2 linked regions of the Homo sapiens genome follow. The protein of the gene in region 1 interacts with the protein of each later gene in a biochemical or structural test. Each region holds a gene or a part of one and is shown on either strand. Other genes may lie near its edges. The genes, in order: CSTF1 and TOLLIP.

What was found.
Region 2: the proteins of CSTF1 (region 1) and TOLLIP form a complex in vitro, tested with the Homo sapiens proteins (one study listed by BioGRID).

What each region holds. Positions count from the first base shown.
Region 1 is NC_000020.11:56,402,471-56,406,997, forward strand, and holds the end of CSTF1 (cleavage stimulation factor subunit 1), read left to right. Parts: intron 1-997; coding exon 998-1,257; 3' UTR 1,258-3,892; downstream 3,893-4,527. UniProt on the Homo sapiens protein: One of the multiple factors required for polyadenylation and 3'-end cleavage of mammalian pre-mRNAs. May be responsible for the interaction of CSTF with other factors to form a stable complex on the pre-mRNA.
Region 2 is NC_000011.10:1,302,964-1,306,772, reverse strand, and holds part of TOLLIP (toll-interacting protein), read left to right. Parts: intron 1-3,809. UniProt on the Homo sapiens protein: Component of the signaling pathway of IL-1 and Toll-like receptors. Inhibits cell activation by microbial products. Recruits IRAK1 to the IL-1 receptor complex. Inhibits IRAK1 phosphorylation and kinase activity.

The sequences.
Region 1 (4,527 bases):
GTAATTTATAGTCATAAAAAGGCTTCCTTTTGGAAAGTAGATATTCATATACTTTGTCTCAGTAATTCTGTCTCTAGGAATTTACTCCTAAGGAAATAAAGCTTTCTGTACAAAGGATGTTCATTACAACATTACTTATAATTGATATAAACTAAATGTCAGGAAGTAAAAGAATTGTTAAACAGGCCGGGCATGGTGGCTCACACCTGTAATCCCAGCACTTTGGGAGGCCGAAGCAGGTGGATCACAAGGTCAGGAGATAAAGACCATCCTGGCCAACCTGGTGAAACCCTGTCTTTACTAAAAATACAAAAATTGGCTGGGTGTGGTGGTGTCCACCTGTAGTCCCAGCTACTTGGGAGGCTGAGGCGGGAGAATCACTCGAACCCAGGAGGCGGAGGTTGCAGTGAGCCGAGATCACGCCACTGCACTCCAGCCTGGCGACAGAGTGAGACTCTGTCTAAAAAAAAAAAAAAAAGATCACACACAAAAGAATTGTTAAATAAGTAATGGGGCTTCTAAACATGAGGCACTTTGCATCTAGTAAAAAACATGGAAAAATGTACTCAGCATAAAGTTGGTTAAAACTATAATAGAAAAATATAGTGGCAACAATTTTATATGTATTTTTAAAATGTGTTTTTTTATGCCTCAAAGTACATTAGGACAGTAACAGTATTGCTTCAGGTGATCTGGTGATCTCCTTTTTTTTTTTCCTGATGCAGTCTTGCTCTTGCTCTGTTGCCTGTTGCCCAGACTGGTCTTGAACTCCTGGGCTCAAGCAGCCCTCCTTCCTCAGCCTCCCAAAGTACTGGGATTACAGACGTGAGCCACTGTGCCTGGTTTGATTTTCTTTTTTGTACTTTTTTAGAGTTTCTGAAAGTGTACAAGGTGTATCACTGCAACAGGTTTAAAATGCTTTTACATTGAATGCTAGAACGTTCTGAGGGTCTAAGATGTGGACTTAGAAAGCTATCCCTCTTGCTCTCTGTGGCAGGCGCGGGTTTAAGTGGACGCCAGGTGCACCGGACACAGGCTGTGTTTAACCACACCGAGGACTATGTGTTGCTGCCCGACGAGAGGACGATCAGTCTTTGCTGCTGGGACTCGAGGACAGCCGAGCGGAGAAACCTGCTGTCGTTGGGGCACAACAATATTGTACGCTGCATAGTGCACTCCCCCACCAACCCCGGGTTCATGACGTGCAGCGATGACTTCAGAGCGCGGTTTTGGTACCGGAGATCGACCACTGACTGAGCCACCCTCTCCGTAGGGTTCTTTCTCGAGGACTCTACCCTCCTCCCCCACGTCCTGTCTCAGCTGCAGTCGTAAGTCCGTGCACCATCCTTGACGTTTTGCTGCCACCTCTGTCCACATTCTTCTTGGATTTGTATAAAAGAATCTTTTTTTACCTTGATGTAGAATCATGGTGGAAAAAGTTGGAAACACAGATCTGTGCAGTTCTACATTCACTGATTATTACAGTGTGATTTTCATCGGTTTTGTAAGTACAGGACTTGCCGTTTCTTTTGATCTCTTGATTGAAGGAGGATAGGGCATTAAAGTGCTTTTGACATGAGGAATTTTCATTTGGTTCTTCTGTCAACTTTCTTGCTTATTCTGCTGAACCCTCTGTGTATTTCCCTTCCAGGTATATTTGAACAGATAAGCAGGCATGCAGCTCTGAGACTCCTGAGTTTTATGCCATTATCAAAAGCATTTTCAAGAATCCCTCAATTCTATCCTGAAATGATGTTATTCTGATAATAAAGCTCAGATCTGCAACTTTATTGTTATATATTTTTCACTTCTGTAAAATTAATGGCCAGTTTTTCCTGACAATTTATAGGAACAGTATCTTTCAACATACTCCCTACATTATCCTTCAATATCTGCAATACTTGTCTTTAGTAACTGTATTTCTGGTAAGATTATGATTTCATGAGAAACAATTGAAAATATATCCGATCTAATTAAATTAGGTCAGCCTGCTATTGCTCTCAGGTGTTGCCTGTCTTCACGAATGATTAGTATCGATTGACCTCTTTCTTAGGTGGTTTTAAGTCTTCAGTTCTCGTCAGCATGAACTAACTTCTCATCATGGAGGCACATAGTAACTGCATTCTCAGAAGATTTATGCAGTTAACCAATTGATACAAGTTTTCTTTTTCTTGAATTTTTTTTTTTTTAATTGAGGCACAGTCTTGCTCTGTCACCCAGGTTGGAGTGCAGTGGCGTGATCTCAGCTCACTGCAAGCTCCGCCTCCTGGTTTCACACCATTTTCCTGCCTCAGCCTCCCAAGTAGCTGGGACTACAGGCACCCACCACCACGCCCGGCTAATTTTTTTTTTTTTTTTTTTTTTTTTTGTATTTTTAGTAGAGCCAGGGTTTCACCATGTTAGCCAGGATGGTCTCTATCTCCTGACCTCGTGATCCGCCTGCCTCAGCCTCCCAAAGTTTTGGGATTACAGGCGTGAGCCACCGCGCCCAGCCTTCCTGAAGCTTTTTAGAACATGACAGTACTTCTCTGGATTCAGCACTAGCAGAGTCAGAGAACTCTGAACTCCCCTTGTACAAACATAAACTTTGCTTTATATTTATCCCAAAAAACAAATACCTTATGATCTGCATAGGAGTACCTAGAAATATAATCTGGGATCATTTGATAAAAATAGTAAATAGATTGAAGTAAAAGTCATTGCTTTATATTATAGGAAGTTTTGTTTTGTTTTGTTTTGTTTGTTTTGTTTTTGAGACGGAGTTTCGCTCTTGTCCCCCAGGCTTTAGTGCAATGGCGCGATCTCGGCTCACCGCAGCCTCCGCCACCTGGGTTCAAACGATTCTCCTGCCTCAGGCTCCCGAGTAACTAGGATTACAGGCGTGCGCCACCATGCCCGGCTAATTTTGTATTTTTTTTAGTAGAGACGGGGTTTCTCCATGTTGGTCAGGCTGGTCTCGAACTCCCAACCTCAGGTAATCCGCCCGCCTCAGCCTCCCAAAGTGCTAGGATTACAGGCGTGAGCCACCACGCGCGGCCCCATCATACGAAGTTACTGAAGTTATTGCGTAAACATTCTGTTTTAGTCATCCTTGAGGATCGTTTTAACTCCTTGATCTGTAAAACTGTCTTAAGCATCTTAACATGTTACATCACAGGGTTTTAGCTCAGATTTCCAAAGAGCCATATTTTTTGATGCATATTTCCAGTTGAATTCCAGTGTGAATTTCCAGTTGTACTTTGCATTCTGATTCTTTGATATTTGAACTTGGCCATCTGTGGGTGCTACTCTCGTAAGACTAAAAGGCACCTACTAAATACGAACAAGGATAACCAGTTCTACCAAAAACATTACCAACCAAACCTCCCCTGTTCTTTTTTCAGACTTTCCTTTTGCTTTCAACCTCTTAAACTGTAAAGGAGAGATTTAATGTTTCCCTATTATTCTGCTTTGACTCACATACTAAAATGACCACATGGCACTCCATTGAATCTTTTCAGTTGTTCACGAATTAAAATAATGCCCATGTTTTACAGTTTTTCGAGTAGTCTCAGCAATGGATCTGTAGTTTCAGGACCTGTTTTTAAAAGATCAAGATACTTTTATGTGTTTCAGAAGTAGCTGTTTTTTCATTTTTTGTGGGTTTGTTTTTTTTGTGTTTGTTTGGTTGGTTGGTTTTTGGTTTTTTTGCTTTTTAAAGGTCACAGTGTTGTGAGCCTGGTGTAAATGCCAGGAATATTATATGGACTTAGTATCTGCATCTCGTTAATTGTACCACACAACACTCTGCCATTCAAATAATGAATATCTGGTCAGGATACGAACTTATACCCTCTGTGTGTTTTTTTTTTTTAAGATACGTGATTTCTGAAATAAACTTTATATACAATGATAAGCTAGTTTATTTTTTTTGGAACTTACTTTGAACATTTCCCACATTTGAACATCTGTTCTCAAACAGCAGTTATGACTTTGGTACTGTTCACCCTTTCTTTAGTGCTTTGTTCCAGAAGTCAGGTTTTTATAGCTGGATCACCTTTAGCTCTTTATCTTTGCTCCTCTGCTCTCTATGAATTTTTCTTTTTTTGAAACGAATTCTCACCCTGCCGCCCAGGCTGGAGTGCAATGGCGCGATCTCGGTTCACCGCAACCTCCGCCTCCCAGGTTCAAGCGATTCTCCTGCCTTAGCCCCCTGAGTAGCTGAGATTACAGGCGCGTGCCACCATGCCTGGCTAATTTTTTCTATCTTTAGGAGAGACAGGGTTTCGCCATGTTGGCCAGGCTGGTCTTGAACTCCTGACCTTCTGATCTGCCCACCTTGGCCTCCCAAAGTGCTGGGATTACAGACGTGAGCCACCGTGCCCGGCCGCTCTCTGTGAAGTTAAAGAACTTGAGTATAATTCAGTTTTTTGGCTTATTCAGAGAACGCTATCTTTGCTTACACTTTGGTTTTCCTTAGGAAGAGCAATGTGAGAGAGTCCAGTCTCAGCTCTGTTACTGACTTGGTAAGTAATAGGGCAAGTCATT
Region 2 (3,809 bases), on another chromosome or scaffold:
ACAGGAGGACTGGACTTGCCCTGGAGTTTACCGGCTCAGCGCAGCACTCTGTAAAGTGTTGCCTGGCACACGCAAGGCAGGGCCCGCCTTGGCACCAGCCTGCTTCGCTGAGCATGACCCACCCCAGCCCCTCTGAATTAACCCATAGTGGGCCTTTACCCAGTTACTAGCACCTAGAGGAGCCCTGCTTTTGCAGGATGTCTTGACACAGTATTTATCATGTCCTCTTTCTGTTACACCTGTGGTGCCAGAGAGGCAGGAGGTTAAGCAGGGCGCTCGCTCAGCTTTCCAGCAGAAAGAGATGCTCCCCAGGGTCCGGGGGCAGGACTCTGGCTCGGGAGACCCTGACTGTGGTCTAGCCGTTGCCTCCCCCTAGTGATAAGGGGAGACGGCAAGATCCCATGGGCCGTGAAGGAGCAGAGGGGCCGCTAATGGGGTCCTGGGAGGGTTCTTTTGTCCTTGGGTAGAGGGAGCTTCAGGGGCCCGGGTGGGTAGGTGTGGAGAGGACGTGTGAAGCTAGCCAGCCCGACATCGTTCTGAGAGAATCATACCGTGTTTAGATCTTCAGGATAATGGTTCCCTGAATAGCCACTAAGGGATGCTTCAGCCCTGTGCAGTGCTTCCCTCACGTTTCAAAAAGGCCAGTATTTTGGAAAGATAACCTTTTTTCAATATAGTCTGCATATTATCAGAAAGCATGGGTGAGTACCTGCAAGGAGTACCATGTGGACCCCTGCGAGGGGTACCGTGGGGGCCCCTGCGAGGGGTACTGTGTGGACCCCTGTGAGGAGTATCATGGGGGCCCCTGCGAGGGGTACCGTGCGGGCCCCCGCGAGGAGTATCGAGGAGTACCGTGTGGACCCCTGCCTTCTGCAGTGAGATCTCGGGACGTTTGCGGGAGACTCCGCTGCAGCCACCGCGGTGCCGTCAGAGAGGCCTCCTTGGTAGAGGTGGGTGCGCTGTGCCGTGTCCAGGCTGCTCTGACTCCTTGTCCTGCTTCTGGAGGTGCTGGTTGGCCATGGAGTCCAGCTGGAGGCGGCCTGGCCCCTCCCTTCCTCCCTGAGAGGCCTGTTCCTGTCCAGGTCCCCTCACTCTTCACATCGTTGATAATTCCTGCCGAATCGGTGACTTCATTAGGGATGGCAGAGGGTAGTTTCTGAACTTTATCACTTCTTCGGTGTTTATTAACTGGGATTGTTTGTAAAGATTAGCTTTCCCCATCAACCGGTGTCGGCTGGCTGTCCTGAAACACAATTCGTGAAAGAAAGGCAAGTGAGATGCTTTTCCCTCATCTTCCCGTACCTCAAGGAGAGAGTTGCTTTTCTTTGTAGATGTGTGTGGGCTTTCTCTCCCCTGAGTGTTGTGAAGAGCCCGTGGATTTTCCTGCATCCTGTGTGTCTGAGCCAGTGGCACTTACCCGTCTCCGCTGGCTCTGGTGGGCTGCTCCTGGGAGGGCGTCCGTTCCTGCTGACTGCACCTGAGCCAGCGGGGAACGCACTCACCGCCTCCTCACGAGTCCTTTCTCTCTGGGTTCCTGTGAACCTTTGCGCTGGATTTTTTAGGCCGGGTTGTGAGTCTGTACAGGTGTGGAATTGCTGTGCTTGCCTGGAAATCACATCTTTTCACTGTGTGGGGACCCACGGGCCTCTTGGAAGATAAAGGCCTCTTGCCTTTGATTATTTTGTCTGATACTGGCATGGCCACCCCAGCTGTCTTTTAGAGAGTATTCACCTAGTACTTTTTCCTTCTATGATTTTACATTTTTCTGAAAACTTTTGTTTAAGACACGTGCACCATCGATAGCACGTAGCTGGATTTTTAAAAAGTCAAATCTAAGAAGACTAAGTCTTTTGATGGGAATGCGCTAGTTTCATCTTTCTAGTTAAGAGATGCCTAGATGGATACACAGATTTACAGATTTTTTACATGTTTTCTTTGGTGCTTTTATTTGTCCTACATTTTCTTATTTTTTTTCTCTCATTGCCTTTTGAATTTATTAAATGGAGTTTTAAAAAATTCAGTTGTTTTATCTCAAGTACATACACACTGTGCTGGGAAAGTACAGGGGCTCCCCTGGAAATGGTAACATGCACTTATCAGCTTCTGCCATGAGGGAGTCTCTGAGTGAACTCTGGCTCCGGAGGCTGCCCGGCTAAAGAATAAATAAAGAAGAAGTTAATCATTGTCTGTGCCACCTCCGGATCCACGCGGAGACCTCGGCCGCCCCGTCCTGGCGCGGGTGCTGCTGTGCCTTGTGTGGGTGCTACCTCCCCTTGGGGCTCCCGCAGGAATGTGTTACTTCTCTCGAGTCAGCGCTTGTTTAGATTTCCTTCTGTGTTTCTCTTTTCTTATCCCTTCTGGTGTCTCGGGCCTTCCATTTGGGGTCACTTTCCTTTAGCTTCAGGTTCATCTAGAATTTTCCTTGCTGGCAAACTTGATTTTTGCTTGTACATGCCTTTTCTCTGTGTCCTGACAGCTATTTTTGTGTGTGTGGAACTCCAGGTGGGCGGTACTCCAGGTGGACAGTACTCCCGGTGGACGGTCACTTGTCCTCAGTGCCTCGAAGGTGGGACCCCGCCCTCTCCTGGCTCCTGGAGTGGCTGCTGAGCAGCCCGGGAGTGGATGTCCCTTCCTCCGGCTTTCCTTCGTTTTTGGCCCTCTGTTTGCTGCCTTCTGAATACGCTGCTTCTGGCCTGCCTCCCAGTTCACTTGAGGTCTTTTTTTTTTTTTTTTTTTTTACATGGAGGCTCGCTCTGTAGCCCAGGCTGGAGTGCAGTGGCACAATCTCAACTCACTGCAACCTCTTCCTCCCAGGTTCAAGCGATTTTCCTGCCTCAGACTCCCGAGTAGCTGGGATTACAGGCGTCCACCACCACGCCCAGCTAATTTTTGTATTTTTAGTAGAGATGGGGTTTCACCATGTTGGCCAGGCTGTTCTCGAACTCCTGGTCTCAAGTGATCCGCCCACCTCAGCCTCCCAAAGTTTTGGGATTACAGGCGTGAGCCACTGCACCCGGCCCTAACCTCTGTTCATCTGGGCCTCTAACACTGTCCCTTGACCTGCCCGACAGGCCCCTGGTTAGGCCTGCTGTGCAAGTGTTTCCTGTCCCTGAGTCACTGTCTCCAGATCCTGCGGGCCCTGCCCTGGCACCGTGCTGGTGAGGCCTGCCTTGCTGCCCTGTGGGAAGTGCAGCGTGCCCCTGCCACCCGGCCTTGCCCTGTTTCTTTGCACAGCGCCTCCTGCCGTTAGCATACAGCATAACTCATGATGCTTCCCGTTTGTCTTCTTCCACTCACGTGTAAGCATCCCAGGAGCAGGGGTGCCCCAGCACCTCACCATGGAAGCCTCAGGCACACAGTGACACGCAGAGGCTGCCGCAGCGCGCGCCCTGTGCCCGGCGCCCAGGGCCTGCCACGTCACATGCCGTCCCTCTCTGGATCTCTGTCCGCCCTTGGCCTGCTGCTTGACTGGCTTTTGTTTCATCTGAATGAGAAGGGGTTTTCCGCCTCTGCCTTGCTTGACCGTCCCAGCACTTAGGATGCAAGGCTGCCTGCAGTGGAGTTCCTGGCAGAGACCCCATTTAAAGTCGCTTGTTCTGTAGTCAGCTTTTATAATCTATGCTTATTCTCATTCTGTCCTGTACTCTTCCCTTTCACCGCTCTTCAGCTTACACGGGTTCGTTTCAATACTGTCATCTCCCAGCTTCCCTTACACAAATTCTAGTGTTTGCTTTGAGACTTTAGCAGAGCCAGGGAACCTCCCGGCATGTTGGCTTTGAAGCGCCTGTTGTGTTTTGTATAATTAAAGG